2 separate regions of the Homo sapiens genome follow, and region 2 is linked to region 1. The links come from fine-mapping of genetic effects on gene expression. Tissue or cell type: blood mononuclear cells. Region 1 holds a variant in brackets; the other region holds the start of a gene. All regions are shown on one strand. Distances are between the middles of the regions.

Region 1 (8,104 bases):
TGACTTTTTGAAAATCACCCTACCTTCTGGGTCTCATCTGTAAAATGAGTGGATCTGACTCATTAGCTAGAGCTGTCAACGGCAGCATCTGCAACTCACAGGTGTGTTTTAATCACTGGCAAGGTACTTTGCAAGTGACTTTTTATATGATCATTAAGGTTTGATGGGCTTTTTTAAATGAATAGAGCAGATTCAAGGTTATCCCTTTGACTGTCATTCTCGGTAGCATTCTGGTGTGCTTTCTGAAACAGGAGAAAAATGGGTGGAGTTACAGGTAGCTCCAGGGATCACACATAAGCTTGGGGCACATACACCGTTGGGAGTGTGTTATGTTTCACACAGAAAAGTTGCCTGGTTATCTGTCATGTGTCTCAACAGCACAAAGACTGATCTATAAACTTTTCTGCTCCATCATCTTTTGGGCTATAAGGCCTGGTGTAAAAGAGATGGTTTTTATTTTATCTGGAGAAAAGACTGCTCTTGGAAAATGCAAATTTCCAAATATCTCCTGTGATGTAGTAGCTCCTCTTAAAATTTAAACTCACACAGAGACTTGAGGAGGTGATACTCTTTAAATTTTTTCATCTTCTTCTTTGGCTTTGCTTCCAGAAAGCGAGAGGAAGAAAACAAACGAAAAGAGGCAGAACAGCAAAAAGGAAGGCGGAGCCCAGATTCCTGCAGACCCCAGGCCCTTCCCTGTCTGCCTAGCACCCAGGATGTGCCCAGCAGGCAGAGCCGGGCCCCCAGCAAGCAGCCTCCTGCTGGCAACGTGGCCCAAGGCCCTGAGCCAAGAGACAGCAGAGGATCTCCAGGAGGGTCTCTAGGCGGAGCCCTCCAGAAGGAGCAGCATGTTTCCTCAGATTTGCAGGGAACAAACTCCAGAAGGCCAAATGGTAGGTGTATTGCCTTTGTCATCTTCTGCCGGCCCATGGACTGTGGGCTTTTTTGATTGGTGTATTTAGACCAATTACACTTAAGATAATTGTTATATTAGCACCTAGGACCGCCACTTTATGATTTGTGTTCTACTTGTTTCCTCTGGTTCTCAGTTCTTTTTCTTTTTTTTCCCTTCCTGTAGGTTACTTCAGCATTTTTAAAAATTCTATCTTGATTGATTTATGGTTTTTTGTTTTCTTTTCTTTTTTAGAGTGAAGTGTGAAAACCTCACTTCCATTCACTTTGTCCACTTTTACGTTTCATTGCTTAGGTATCGGATGGTGTTATAAATTTTGTTTCAATCATGAAATACAATTTATAAAACTCACAAAGGAAATAACATTTTATGCGCCCGCCTGTATTTCTGCTCTTCTGTTGTTTCTTCTTCCTTCCTGATGCTCTAAGATTCTTGTATCATTTCCTTTCTGTATGAAGAGCTTTCTATGGCCAATCTTTAAGGGTATGTCTGCTAGCAACAAATTCTTTCAGTTTTCCTTTGTCTGAGAATGTTTTTATTTGATTCCTGAAGAATCATTAAGCCAGATATAGAATTCAGGGTTGGCAGTTCTTTTCTTTTAGCACTTGAAAAATATTGTGCCATTTCCTTTTGGCTTCCATGGTTTCAGATGAGAAATCCACTGTCATTCAAATTGGTGTTTCTCAGTAACAGTCCTAGGTAATATGTCATTTCTCTCTGGCTGCTTTCAAGATCTTAAAATTTATCATTAGCTTTCAGAAGTTTAATATGATGTGTCTTGGCATGGCTTTTTGCAGTTTATCCTATTTAGAGTTTACTTGTGTGTCAGGGATCCCCATGATCCCCATCCCCAAGACTACCACCAGGTTTGGTGAGGTTGGAGGATTTACTAGTTTGACTGAGCATATAGTTGTACTCCCAGTTAGGATTTATTATAACAAAGGGACACAAAGCAAAATGAGCAAAGAGAAAAGGTGTATGGAGCAATGTCCAGAGGAAATTAGGCACGAGCTTCCAACGGCTCTCTCCCAGTGGAGTCACACACAACACGTTTAATTCCTTCTGCAATAAATTGTAACAACCAGTCAGACAATCTTTTGTTGACAAAGAAAGCTCACATGAACCTAGGACTCCAGGATTTTTATCTGGAGTCAGTCACATAGATACCCTCTGCCTAGCATATGCCAAAATTCCAGACTCCCAGAAGGAAAGGTGTGCAGCACGAACCCTATTGTTTGCACGAAGCAATTTAAACACACTGAGCTACTCTTATAAGTTAGAGAACGGTAGGAGCTTTCCCAAAATCTAAGTGCAAATGCCAACACAGTGAAAAAGGCAAATAATGTCTTCGTATTATTATGAAAATAGCCCTGACCTTATGGACTTTCTCAGAAAGGGGCTCTGGAACTTCATGATTACTGAATTCAGGGCTTGGACAGTTCAATCTGTTTCTTTGAACCTTAACTTCCTTAGCTATAAAGTGAGGGTATACTTTCTACACCACAAGGTAGCTATGGATAGAAATAATTCATGTAGTGTACTTGTTATAGCCCATAACTCATCATAGGTTTTCAGTAACTATTATTATTGAGCCACTCATTAATCTAGCCAAGAACAACTACAGAAAAGTATACATAAAATGACTACAGGCCGGGTGCAGTGACTCACACCTATAATCCCAACACTTTGGGAGGCTGGGGCAGGTGGATTACTTGAGGCCAGGAGTTCAAGACCAGCCTGGCCAACTTGGCGAAACTCCATCTCTACTAAAAATATACAAATTAGCCAGGCATCGTGGTGCATGCAACTCAGGAGGCTGAATCACAAGAATTGCTTGAACTTGAGAGGCGGAAGTTGCAGTGAACCGAGATTGCGTCACTGCACTCCAGCCTGGGTGACAGTGAGACTCTGTCTCAAAAAATATATATATCTAAAATGAATATAAACATTTCTGGAATATAATTCCATAATCCACTTTACAGTGTAATCCTTAAGGATTATATACTCATGATGCTTTGGTACATATTCATTCATTTATTCATCCAACCAGCTTTAATTAAGCTCCCATAATGTGACAGCCATGTTGAACTTCCTTGAGTTCTTTCTTAGCTTGGGGCCTTTGCAGATGCCACTCCCTCTACCTTATTTTTTAGATATCAGGGATAATGTTTCTTCTTCTGTTCAACCAATATCTCCCCGCTAAAGGAGGCTATAGTTTCCTGCTATTGCTTCCATACTTCTCCTATACTTCCCTCTTATAAAGATCATCACTTTTTACTGTTATTACTGGTTTACTTGTCATTTTTTCCACCAAACTGCAAGATCTGTAAGAGTAGGGTTGCTTCCATTATCTACTGCTGTATAACAAACCACACAAAAACAAAGTGACTTTGAACAATGACAATTTAATTTTTATGATTCTATTTTGGTTGGGAAGTTTGTTTACGGGCTTCATCTGGTCTCACTCATGTGTCTGCATTCAGGTGGAGAGTCAGTGGAATTCCATGTCTAAGATATAGTCACTTAAATGTCTAGCAATTGATGCTGGCTATCAGATGGGATTCCTTGACTCTGGTTTACGTGGTTTTCATCCTCCAGTAGACTAGACTGGCTTCCTTACATTGTGGTCTCAGGACAGCATTTTCAGAAAGCGAAGATAAAAGCCACAAGACCTCTTGAGAAATAGACTCTAGAATTTGCACACATTATATTGATCAAAGCAAGTTACGAGACCATCCCAGACCAAATGATGTCGAGAAATAGATTCCACCTTTGTGCATACTAAGATGGGAGGAATTTTTGGCTATTAAACAATCTGTCATAGTTCCTATTTGGTCACAGATTATTCACATTCCTCCCACATGCAAGATATTCTTACCCCTTGATATGGATTGGCTCTGTGTCCCCACCCAAATTCCCAGTGTTCGGGGAGGGACTTGGTGGGAGGTAATTGGATCATGATAGTGAGTTCTTACAAGATCTCATGGTTTAAATGTGTGTGGCACTTCCCCGCTCGCTCATGCTCTCTCCTGCTACCATGTGAAGAAGGTGCTTGCTTCCCCTTTGCCTTCCACCATGATTGTAGGTTTCCTGAGGCCTCCCAGTTGTGCTTCCTGTTAGGCCTGTGGAACTGTGAGTCGATTAAACCTCTTTTCTTTATAAATTACCCAGTCTCAGGTAGTTCTTTATAGCAGTGTAGGAACGGACTAATACATCCCTATCTCAGTACCCCAAAATCTCATCCTGATTATCTCATCACACTTGAAGTCTAGGATTTTAAGACATGAACTAGATGTGGTTCAGGTTCACCAGCTGGGACTCTTTCTGATTCAGAGACCAATGAGCCAAAAAGATACATTATCAACACCCCCCACACCCAACAAACAGTGGTAAGACAGGAACAGAATAACCACAGTAGACAAAAGAGGGTGGAATAGGAGGCGTATAGCAGCCATTAGTCCGTAGCAATTCTGAAAACCAGCTGGTCACATTTTACCAGGGCCCCTACTCTGAGGTAAATATTCCTTGATTAGGGTCTCATATTACTCCTGGTGGCTTCCTATTCCATTGTTCTCCATGTCTCTTGGCTCTGCTACCTGAATTCTTGGCTCTGCTCTCTGAGAAGTCCTTC[C/A]TTTTCCTAAGAAATGCCCATGTTTGCAGCTGAGTAGCTTTCTCAGCCTATCTCCTGACTATAGGATACTGGGGCCCCAGAGGCTTCTTTTTGATTTGAACTATGTCACCAGTTCAAGCTTGTGGTACTCTCAATAATGCGATTATCTCAAAAACTTCATGGGTTTCCTGCGAATCTGATTGGATTCATTTCATATTTCAAAAGCCACATCCATTATTTTTCAAACAAGCTTTGCTCTAATTTGAGTGGCTTAGATTTCTGTGGGAAAATGCCCTTGAGATTCTTAGAAATTTTTTTGTCGAGCTGAGAGGGCCTATTATGTACCACCTCAAATATTTTTGAGTCTTAATAAAGGGTTGTACAACCATACTTTTTTTTTTTTTTAAGACAGGGTCTCACCCTGTCACCCAGGCTGGAGTGCAGTGGTTCAAGCACAGCTCACTGCAACCTCTGCCTCCCAGGTTCAAGTGATCCCCCCATCTCAGCCTCCCGGGTGGCTAGGACCATAGGTGTGCGCTACCATGCCTGGCTAATTTTTTGCATTTCTTTTTTGTAGAGATGAGATTTCATCATGTTGCCCAGGCTGGTCTCAAACTCCTGGACTCAAGCAAACCACCTGCCTTGGCCTCCCAAAGGGCTGGGATTTTATAAGTGTTAGTTATTGTGTCCGCCCTGATTTGATCTTTATGCTGAGGCCTATGAGACTCTTTTGCTGGTTGGAAAGAATAAAAATGTTAAAATAGTTTTATTTTCTAACCCAGCACATCCCGGGATCTTTACATTATCTCTAAATTTTGCTTACAAACGGAGCAGTTTTTCCTTCATTTTATTTGTTTTCTCCCCATACTTTGTCATATGTAGCTTAAAAAGCAGTTGACATTTTGTTCTACATTCCACCTGGAAACTTCCTGAACTGTATCTACAGCTCCATTAGGTATATTTTCTATCTTCTATGTTACTGCAAGTGACAATTTTGCCAGTTAATTCTGCCACTGAATAACAAGGTTCACTTCTCTCTAGATTCCAACAGCAATTTCTTTTCTGCTCTTCGAGCCTTCACCAGCAGTCTCTTCATTGCCTTCCCAGCTTCTGCTCACCAACCAGTCCAAAGTCAATACCCTGGGTTTTGTATTTTAAGACAGTACCTCTCTTTTATAGATATAAATATCTGTGTTGGTTATCTCTTGTGGCATAATAAAACACTCCCAAAACTAAGTGGCTTAAAACAACAGAAGTTTATTATTTCTCACAGTCCCATGGGCTACCTGGGCAGTTCCTCTTCTCGATCACCTGGGCTCATTCATGAGGTTGATAGAATTTGCACAAGATGTGGCCAAGATGGCCGCCTTCATATATCTGGCAATTGGTGGTGGCTGTTGGCTGTCTCTATTCTCCTTTATATGGCCTTTTGTTCTCCAGTAGGTTAGACTATCTTCCTTACATATATTGTTCTCAGAGCAGTACTCTTGAGAGAAGGCAGAAACTGCATGTCACCCAGTTTATCCATTCACCTACTGAAGAAACATCTTGGTTGCTTCCATGTTTTGGCCGTTATGAATAAAGCTACTATAACATCCCTGTGCAGCTTGTATGGACATAAGTTTTCAACTTATTTGAGTAAATATAAAGGAGTGTGATTGCTGGATCTTATGTAAGAATATGTTTAGTTTTGTAAGAAACTGCCAAACTGTCTTCCAAAGTGGATGTACCATTTTGCATTCCTACCAGCAATGAATGAAAGTTCTTATTGCTCCACATCCCCACCAGCATTTGGTCACTGTTTTGGATTTTTGCCATTCTAATAGGTGTGTAGTGGTATCTTGTAGTTTTAGTTTTTTTTTTGGCCCGGTGGGGTGGGGGTTGCATATATGTGAAACATTGTAACAGCTCTAAGAGTCAGAGCTATACAAAAAGGTGGAGCCAGAGAAGTGTCTCTCACTCCCTCTTCATCTCTACTATCCAGCTCCCATTTCTCTTTTCTTTCCACCTCTTTCCCACTCAACTCCTGCAGGTAATCAATTTCTTTAGTTTTTGCTTTATGTTTTCTATATTTCTTTTTCACAAATGAGCAGATATAGGTATATTTTCTTATATCCCTTTCTTTCTTTCTTTGAGACAGAGTTTCGCTCTTGTCGCCTAGGCTGGAGTGCAGTGGCGCAATCTTGGCTCACCGCAACCTCTGCCTCCCAGGTTCAAGTGATTCTCCTGCCTCAGCCTCCGGAGTAGCTGGGATTACAGGCATGCACCACCATGTCCAGCTAATTTTTTTGTATTTTTAGTAGAGACAGGGTTTCTCCACATCGGTCAGGCTGGTCTCGAACTCCCGACCTCAGGTGATCTGCCCACCTCGGCCTCCCAAAGTGCTGGGATTACAGGCGTGAGCCATCACACCCAGCCCATCCCTTTCTTTCTTACATGAAGAGTAGTATAGTTTAGATAGCTCTTTTGCACTTAAGAGTATTTTATTTTACATTATTGAGACATAGTCTCACTCTGTTGCTCAGGCTGGAGTGCAGTGGCACAAACAGCTCACTGCACCCTCAACCTCCCAGCCTCAAGCGACCTTTCACCTCAGCCTTCTGAGTAGCTGGGACTACAGGCATGCACTACCATGTCTGGATAATTGTTTTTTTGTTTTATTTTTAGAAATGGGGTCTCACTATGTTGTCCCGGCTTGTCTCAGACTTGGCTCAAGCAATCCTCTTGCCTCAGCCTCCCAAGGTGCTGGGCCCACTGCACCCAGCCAGAACAGTTATTTTAAAGTCTGTTTCTGAAAACACATTATCTGGATAATCTATGTGCCTGTTTTATTAAGAATTTTTTTTTTTTCAGACGGAGTCTCGCTGTCACCCAGGCTGGAGTGCAGTGGTGCAGTCTCAGCTCACTGCAACCTCTGCCTCCCGAGTTCAAGCGATTCTCCTGCCTCAGCCTCCCAAGTAGCTGGGACTACACGCGTGCGCCACCATGCCCAGCTAATTTTCGTATTTTTAGTAGAGACGAGATTTCACCATGGTGGTCAGGCTGGTCTCAAACTCCTGACCTCATGATTCCTGCCTCGGCCTCCCAAAGTGCTGGGATTACAGGCATGAGCCACCGTGCCTGGCATATTTTTCAGTTTAGATGTTGTATTTGTTTTTCAAATCTATCCTTTTCTCGTATTTTAAACTTCTTTTGTGTGTTTAATCAACGTGTGTGTGCTAACGTTTTGAGAGATCTGATCTTGCTATTGTGTTAACTGTTGCTTATGGTACATTGTTTCCTCATGCATTTTGTGATTTTGGATTGTGAAGTCATTTTCAGAGGACTCCGTTGTGCAGCCTGAGTTGAGGGCATGTCACACTAAAGCAATATTGTGTTTGCTTCTGTGAGGCATCCTGGGATATCTCCATCCTAAGACCAGTTTTTATAGTAATATCTCCTATGGATTGAGAATAAATGAATACCAAGCCCATGTAAGGAAGACGACTTTGGTTTTAAATTCTTATGGGAGACTCCTTACCCCATCCAGAACCTGGGCTGAAACAAACTTCCTTGTCATCTCTAAGTGCTGGAGAGCAGAT
Region 2 (8,104 bases), 380 kb before region 1:
GAGCTGCTGTGAAGACCTCTCACATGCCCTGGAAACATTTTCCCCATTGTCTTGGCGATTAACATTTGGCTCCTCATTACTTATGCAAATTTCTGCAGACAGCTTGACTTTCTCCTCTGAAAATGGGATTTTCTTTTCTGTCACATTGTCAGGCTACAAATTTTCCAAACTATTATGCTCTGCTTCCCTGATAAAACTGAATACCTTTAACAGCACCCAAGACACCTCTTGAATACTTTGCTGTTTAGAAATTTCTTCCACCAGATACCCTAAATCATCTCTCTCAAGTTCAAAGCTCCACAAATCTCCAGGGCAGGGGCAAAATGCTGGCAGTCTCTGCTAAAATATAACGAGAGTCACTTTTGCTCCAGTTCCCAACAAGTTCCTCATCTCTATCTGAGACCACCTCAGCCTGGACCTTATTGTTAATATCACGATCAGCATTTTTGTCAAAGTCATTCAACAAGTCTCTAGGAGGCTCCAAACTTTCCCACACTTTCCTGTCTTCTTCCGAGCCCTCCAAACTGTTCCAACCTCTGCCTGATAACCAGTTCCAAAGTTGCTTCCACATTTTTGGGTACCTTTTCAGCAACGCCCCACTCTACTGGTACCAATTTACTGTATTAGTCCATTTTCATGCTGCTGATAAAGACATACCCAAGACTGGGAAGAAATACAGAAGAACTGTATTTGGACTTACAGTTCCACATGGCTGGGGAGGCCTCAGAGTCATGGCGGGAGGTGAAAGGCACTTCTTACATGGCAGCAGCAAGAGAAAATGAGGAAGATGCAAAAGTGTGGAAACCCCTGATAAAACCATCAGATCTCTTGAGACTTATTTACTACCATGAGAACAGTATGGGGGAAATCGCCCCCATGATTCAAATTATCTCCCATGATTCAAATTATATCCCACCAGGTCCTTCCCACAACATGTAGGAATTATGGAAGTACAATTCAAGATGAGATTTGGGTGGGGACACAGAGCCAAACCATATCAGTGGGAGAAGCTTCCTAGGTGAGATGACTTTTGAGTCCAGCAGAATAAAGAGTAATTTCTTTACTCTGGGGTGGGGGGAAAGAGATGGGGGAAAGCAGGCAAAAAATGGCATTCTAAGAAGAAAGAGTAATAGTTGCAAAATCAATTTGGATTTTTTAAAATGTTTTATTATAGAAATCATAAAGGGGGCCTGGTGTGGTGGCACACACCTGTAATCCTAGCACTTTGGGAGGCTGAGGTAGGAGGATCACTTGAGCTCAGGAATTGGAGACTAGACTGGGCAACACAGGGAGTCCCAATTTCTAGAAAAATAAAATTAGCCCAGCATAGTGGCATACACCTGTGGTTCCAGCTTCTTGGGAAGCTGAGGCAGGAGGAGGTCAAGGCTGCAGTGAACCATGATCACCCCCATTGCACTCTAGTCTGGGTGACAAAGCAAGATTCTATCTCAAAACAAAACACGAAGGAAGGAAGGAAGGGAGGGAAGGAAATAAGAAAGGAAAGGAAAAGGAAGGAAGGAAATAAGAAAGGAAAGGAAAAAAGGGAAGGAAGGAAGGAAATAAGAAAGGAAAGGAAAAGAAAGGGAAGGAAGGGAAGGAAGGAAGGAAAAAAGAAAGAAAAGAAAGAAAAACAAGAAAGAAAGAAAAAGAAAGAGAAAAATCATAATGGGATTTTGATAAATTTTTAAGTTAGTTTGGTGGAAATGGACAACTTTACAATATTGACTGTATTACTTTTCCACATAGTCAAGTCTTTACTTGTATCTTATATGGAAATATGGAAGTCAGGTTAAAGTATAAATACTGTTACGTAAGATTTGAGTCTTACTCCTGTTATGTAGTATATGAGACTTGGACCTTGGTCAAGTTACTCTCTAAGCCTCAATTTCCTAGTTTGTATGAAGGGGGTGATTGTAATACCTACTTCATGGGTTGTCATCAGTATTAAATAACATATTGCATGTAAAGCGCCTAACCAAGTGCTTTACACATCACATGCAATCAAATAAAAAGCTACTTCTTCCCCCCTCCCTTTTTACATGGCTTTATTTAGGTATAATTCACATACAATAAGCACTTATACATAAACATATTTACAGTGTACAATTTGGTAAGTTTTGACATATATATACGTCCATGCAGCTATTACCACAATCAAGATAATGAACATTTCTATCACTCCCAAAGTTTCCTTATGCCCCTTTGTGATCCTTCCTTCCACCCCTATCCCTCATCTAGCTATTATTCTCAATTCTTCAAATAGGTCTTGTAATTCCTTATAAACACAAACTTGATTTTTGTCATTTTTGAATGTAATCTTCCTCCCAGTACATTTCAATTTTTTTTTTTTTTTTTTTTTTTGAGACAGGGTGTCAGTCTTTTCTGCAGGCTGGAGTGCAGGCTGGTGGGATCATAGTTCATTCCAGCCTCAAACTCCTGGGCTCAACTGATCCTCCTGTTTCAGCCTCCTGAGTAGCTGGGATTATAGGTACATGCCACCATACCCAGCTACGTTTTTTTTGTTTTTTTTAGAAATGGGGTCTCACTATTTTGCCCAGGTTGGTCTTGAATTTCTAGCCTCAAGCAATCCTCCCTCATTGGCCTCCCAAAGTGCTGAGATTATAGGCATGAGCCATCACGCCCAGTCTTCTTCTCATTACATTTTAAAATTGATGATTGTTGTTTAGGAGAGGTATTTTATAGCCATCTTATTGAATTAGTTTCAGTTTATTCCATGGATTTTCCAAGAAAGCAATCAATCATAACACCCTAAGAATTTTTTTTAATTTTCTTTCCAACATATACACTTAATGTTTTGTTTGGACTTGCTGGGTTCAGTTAGGACTTCAGGAAAATGTCGGCCAGTAGTAGCAGGCCTGCCCCTAACAACTTGATGACCTAGAGTACACAAAAGAGGTCCACACACCATATGTTTGAATATTTAAAGATTATAAATCAAGCTAACCAACAGTTAGATTAAAAGGTTTTGGTCGGGCATGGTGGCTCACACCTGTAATCCCAGTACTTTGGGAGGCCGAGGCGGGCGGATCACGAGGTCAGGAGATCAAGACCATCCTGGCTAACATGGTGAAACTCTGTCTCTATTAAAAATACAAAAAATTAGCCGGGCATGTTGGCACACGCCTGTAGTCCCAGCTACTCAGGAGGCTGACACAGGATAATCGCTTGAATCTGGGAGGTGGAGGTTGCAGTGAGCTGAGATCATGCCACTGCACTCCAGCCTGGGCGAAAGAGCAAGACTCTGTCTAAAAAAAAAAAAAAAAAAAAAATGTTTATCCTACTACTTTGACACACCTAACTTACAGCAAACATACATATAACAACTTAGAAGTCCAGGTCCAAATTTAGAATCTTTGAGTACCACACCTCCTGATTTTGTACCTGAGGAAGCTTTTTCAGAACTTAACACAAATGATCTTTTATTTCAAAAGATCTTATTTCACTGATCCTTGCATAAAAAACATTTTCTCACAGTATTGCCTAATACTTTAATTTTTCTCCTTAGAATCAAAATTTGATAAATACATTCTGGAGCTCATTGTAAAACAAATATCAGTATACATTATGTCCCCAAAGAAAATCCAAATTGCTTGGTAGATTTGGTGCTTTGTTTTAGAAATTGTCTTTCAAGGCTTTTTAAAGGATCTACAGGCCCCTAATCTTCCCTGTTTACCTCCTACTCTACTGGAAGACCCTAAGAACTCAGTTTCCTTAACTGTGGTTTGAACATCCTGATCACTTCTGAGACAATGCCATTAGTGAATACATTCTAAGCACGTCATCTGAATATTCACAGACATCTTTTTAAAAGGGCTGGATCTGGAAGTTAGGCCATGAAGAGAGGAGGACCTGTGACTTGGACAAGGCTTCAAAGCCGGCCACCTGCTTGTTCATGTGGTTGCAGCTGGTCTAACTGGAATAACTTGGGAAGGAAATTAGGACACCCAGTTGGAGTTCCAGCTCTGCCATAAGCTGGCTGAACTGGAGTGAGTCACTTAAAACTCTTTGTTAAACCCCAGAGTCATAATCTATAAAATCGGGATAAAGACGTTTGCCTTAAGCCCTCCACCAGTTTTTGGAGGAAACCACAATTTGCTGAGCTTTAATTTTTACACCTGTTGCAATTAAGATGGCACTCCTGCCCTGTCCACTTCACAGGGCTTTTGGGGACGGGATGGGGAGGCACCACCTTTCTGAGCTTCAGTTTCAAAACAGAGCTAAGAATACATGCCCAACCCGCAAATAAAATTCTAGGAAGAACAGAGGAAAACGGACAGGAAAACTGCGAAATGCAGTCGGCCATACAAGCATGAATTGTCTTAAACACAACAAGCAGACCTAAAGAGCGTTTGTGCGTCTCTCTCCTCTTGGCTCGAGTCACAACCCCATAACGTAAATCAATATCACTTTTGAAAAAGGCTTTCGCTGTTCTCAGCAGCGTCCGCATTTGTACTCACCTGTGCGCCCCCAGCGCCCGGCCTGGGGGCCCTGCGGGGCGGGGGCGGGGGCGGGGGCGGGGCCCAACCCTGCCCACCCCTCGTGATGCCCCGCCCCGTCGCTCCTGCGCCTGCGCCGTGCCCACCGACCGGCCTCGAGCGCCCCGGCGGGAGGTAAGGGGCTCTCTGGAGGCCGCCTTTGGGGGCGTCGGGCCCTCACAGGCTTGGTGGGCCTGGCGCCCGTGTGGCGCGCGCAAGAGGCGCTGGGCGGCAAGTAGGGCATTGGATCCGAAGTGCGAGCGCCATGGTGGCTCCTCCTGTTTTTCAGAAGTGGCGGAGCCTCGCTTGGTTTCGTTTTTGGAAGCTTTATTGGAAGCTGGTATAGGGAGGCCGCAGACGATGCGAGCAGGACGGCCTCCCGGGGTCGCGGGGTGGAAAAGTTTCCGGCGCGCGTCCTGTCTCTGGCGCGCTGTAGGCCCCGGGTCGCCAGGGTCGCTGGCGTCTGGGTCCCGGGACAGACCCGCGCATCCGTTCGCTGGTGGGGGCGTTTGGTGTGTGTGGCCCAGGTGTGCTGTGGGTGACACTGCGAGGAATGACGCGACGCTCGATGGTAGTGAGGCTCGGAGGACTGGGAGCGAGAGGCCGGAAGCCCCTGCTCGCCAAACCCAGAGGTGGTTGGCAGAAGGTCCCACACCTTGGCTCCCTCCTTTTAGCTAACCGAGGTTCAGAGAGGAGACTTTACTTTGACTTTTCTCTCCAAATTCGGTATCTCTTCCATAAGTCAGAAACATTAAGCGGCGGGCCGGAAGAAATCGGGCGCCACTAGTATCCTGAAAAGTGGGAGCTCTGGGCCGATGGAAGGTGTTCGTCACTTTTGGGGGCTGGGTTTCCTGAGAAATGGGGTCTTTCACTTATTAATAACCTCCTAAGTAACTTACTGGGAAACATGAGTATTATGGTACCCATCTCATATTAGTTGTAAGCACTACATGATAAAGTTTGTAAAGCACCTGGCACAGTCCTGGCACCCCTCTCTCCAAGTATTAATGCAGTGAATACGATGGCAGTTCTTTGACTTCTAAATGTTTTTACCTGTCTTACGTGAAACATCCTCTTATACTAAAAAACTTTTTTATTTTGAAATAATTTTAAAATTACAGAAAAGTTTCAAAAGTAATACAGAGTTCCCTATTGCCTCCATTAATAATTTTTTACATACCATAGCGCAATTATCAAAAGCAAGAAGTTAATATTAGTATAATACTATTAACTGAATTACTAACTTGTGATTTTTTTTCCTGTATTAATGTCCTTTTTCTATTCTAGGATCCACTCTAAGACCCGACATTGCAGTTAGTTGTCTTGGGTCCTTGGTCTCCTCCAGTCTGTGACAGTTCCTCTGTCTTTTCCTGTCTTTACACTGATAGTCTTTTTCTGTCTTTATACTCTTTCTGATCTTTACACTTTTGAAGAATGCTGGTCAGTTATTTTGTAGAGTGCCCCTCAAATGGGGTTTGTCCAGTGTTCTCTCATGATTAGATTAAGGTTATACATTTTTGTTAAGAACACAAAAGTGTGTGTGCCCTTCTCAGTTCATCATATGAGCATAGCTGATATATATGACTTATTGCTCGTGAGGTTAATCTTGATCACTTGGTAGAGAGTGTCTGCTGGGATTCTCCAATGTAAAGGTCTTATTTTTCTCCTTATAATTGACATCTTGGGGGGGAGCTTTTAAACCGTACGCATATCCTGTTTCTCCTCAGACTTTCCCTTGCTAAATTTCACATCCATTGGTGGATCTTGCCTTCAGCAATTATTATGACTATGGTGTTCTAATGATGATTTTCTACTTTCCTCATTTCTTTATTAATTGAAATTATTCTGTAAGGATGAGCTGCCCATTTCCCATTTGTTTATTTGTATTCCGTTATTTATTTGTATCCATGTGGACTTAGATGTTTTTCTATTGGTTGTTATCCTACACTTGTGTTATTTTATGTTTGAAATTGTTCCAGCTTTGATCATTGGGAGTTTTCTTTCAGGTTGCTTTCTGTAGCTTTTCAGCATGCTTCCATCCTTTTTTTTCTTTTTTGGAACTTCCTAATTTTCTGGTACCATAGGATGCCCCAGGCTCATCTTGTGTTTTCTGTGCCTCAGCCCTGATAGTCAGCCACTTCTCCAACGACCCGTAGTTTCTTTTTTTGGAGAATAGTATTTAAACACAAAGATCTGTGCTCTAGGGATGCTCATTGCTACTGGGGTAACATTGCTTCCAGGGCCCCACAGAAGACACCAGTCTATACATATGCATACCCATGCATACACAAAGATCTATGTTTATTTCTGTATTTGTCTATCCATATACTTTTTAAAAACAAAAGTTCATCCCAGTAGCTTTGCTTCTAGTCTAACACCACAGGGTTCATTCTAGTTTTGTCCCTTATTTTTAACTTTTTATCTGACAGTGAGAAATCTGACTCTTGGCATTCTACAAAATATTTTCTTATTTCTTCAGTCCTAGTATACACATAAAGTAATTTCAGGATTTCTGACCTATGTTCCTGTGAGAAACACATTTACTAAATAGAGTACAGTGTAGTTCTTTTTGTCTCTAGGCTTATAGTATTCAGTTAAAATATTGTTTTCTAAAGTGGCTTAGATAATTTTTCTTCCTCACTTCTTTCAGTGTGGTTATGCTATTCGTTTATAATACAGTTTATGTTTTTATAGTTTATATTCCATTTTGGAGGGAAAGAGTCTAAAGGTAGACTAATTGAAGCTCCATTATCATGGCTATGCATATTGTGCTATTTGACTAGAGTGATAGGATTAGCAATTGTATAGAAGGGACGTGTGAAGAAATATTTTAGTTCAGGCAGCATCTATTGAACAACAGGTGTGTTCAAAAAACATTTTGATAGGAATGATGGTAGATATAAAGATAATCTCTTTGTGGTATAGAAGAAAAGAAAAGAGGCAGTGTGATAGATTGGGAAATGTTAATGTTAGACAAATAATTGATACATTTAACATGTAATAGCCTTTTATGAGTTAATAAGAGAAAGACATCCCCTGTAGTAAAAACAGATGCATATGACATGAACAGGCAATTCATGAAAGAAGAAATGCAATGAGTACAAAAAAATAGTGATAGAGGATGAATAAAATATAGTACTTGATAGCCGAACAGGGTGACTATAATAATTCAATTGTATATTTAAAAATAACTAAAAGAGTATAACTGGATTGTTTGCAACACAAAGAATAAATGCTTGAGGTGATGGATACCTCATTTACCCTAATGTGATTATTACACATTGTATGCCTGTATCAAAATAACTCAAATATCCCATAAATATATACCTACTACTAATATATACCCACAAAAATTAAAAATTAAAAAAAGAAGAAATGCAGCTGGGCATGGTGCCTCACACTTGTAATCCTAGCACTTTGGGAGGCCGAGGCAGGTGGATCACCTGAGGTCGGGAGTTCGAGACCAGCCTGGCCAACATGGTGAAACCCCGTCTCTACTAAAAATACAAAAATTAGCTGGGCGTGGTGGCACGTGCCTGTAATCCCAGCTACTTGGGAGGCTGAGGCAGGAGAGTCACTTGAACCTAAGGGGCGGAGGTTGCAGTGAG

What was found. PIP is the estimated chance that this variant, and not a neighbour inherited with it, causes the effect.
Region 2: STX17 starts here. The variant in region 1 is fine-mapped to the expression of STX17 in blood mononuclear cells (TOPMed, PIP above 0.99).

The regions. Positions count from the first base shown.
Region 1 is chr9:100,283,711-100,291,814 of GRCh38, forward strand. INVS (inversin) reads left to right here. Exons shown (of 17, transcript NM_014425.5): 13 at 610-893. LOC124902235 (a long non-coding RNA gene) reads right to left here and starts at 611. Exons shown (of 2, transcript XR_007061700.1): 1 at 1-611. RefSeq lists enhancers at 226-726, 727-1,227. The variant C/A (reference allele first, on the strand shown) is at 4,545.
Region 2 is chr9:99,902,076-99,910,179 of GRCh38, forward strand. STX17 (syntaxin 17) reads left to right here and starts at 4,579. Exons shown (of 8, transcript NM_017919.3): 1 at 4,579-4,631. STX17-DT (STX17 divergent transcript) reads right to left here and starts at 4,526. Exons shown (of 3, transcript NR_038853.1): 1 at 4,479-4,526. RefSeq lists a silencer at 4,318-4,717 and an enhancer at 4,878-5,117.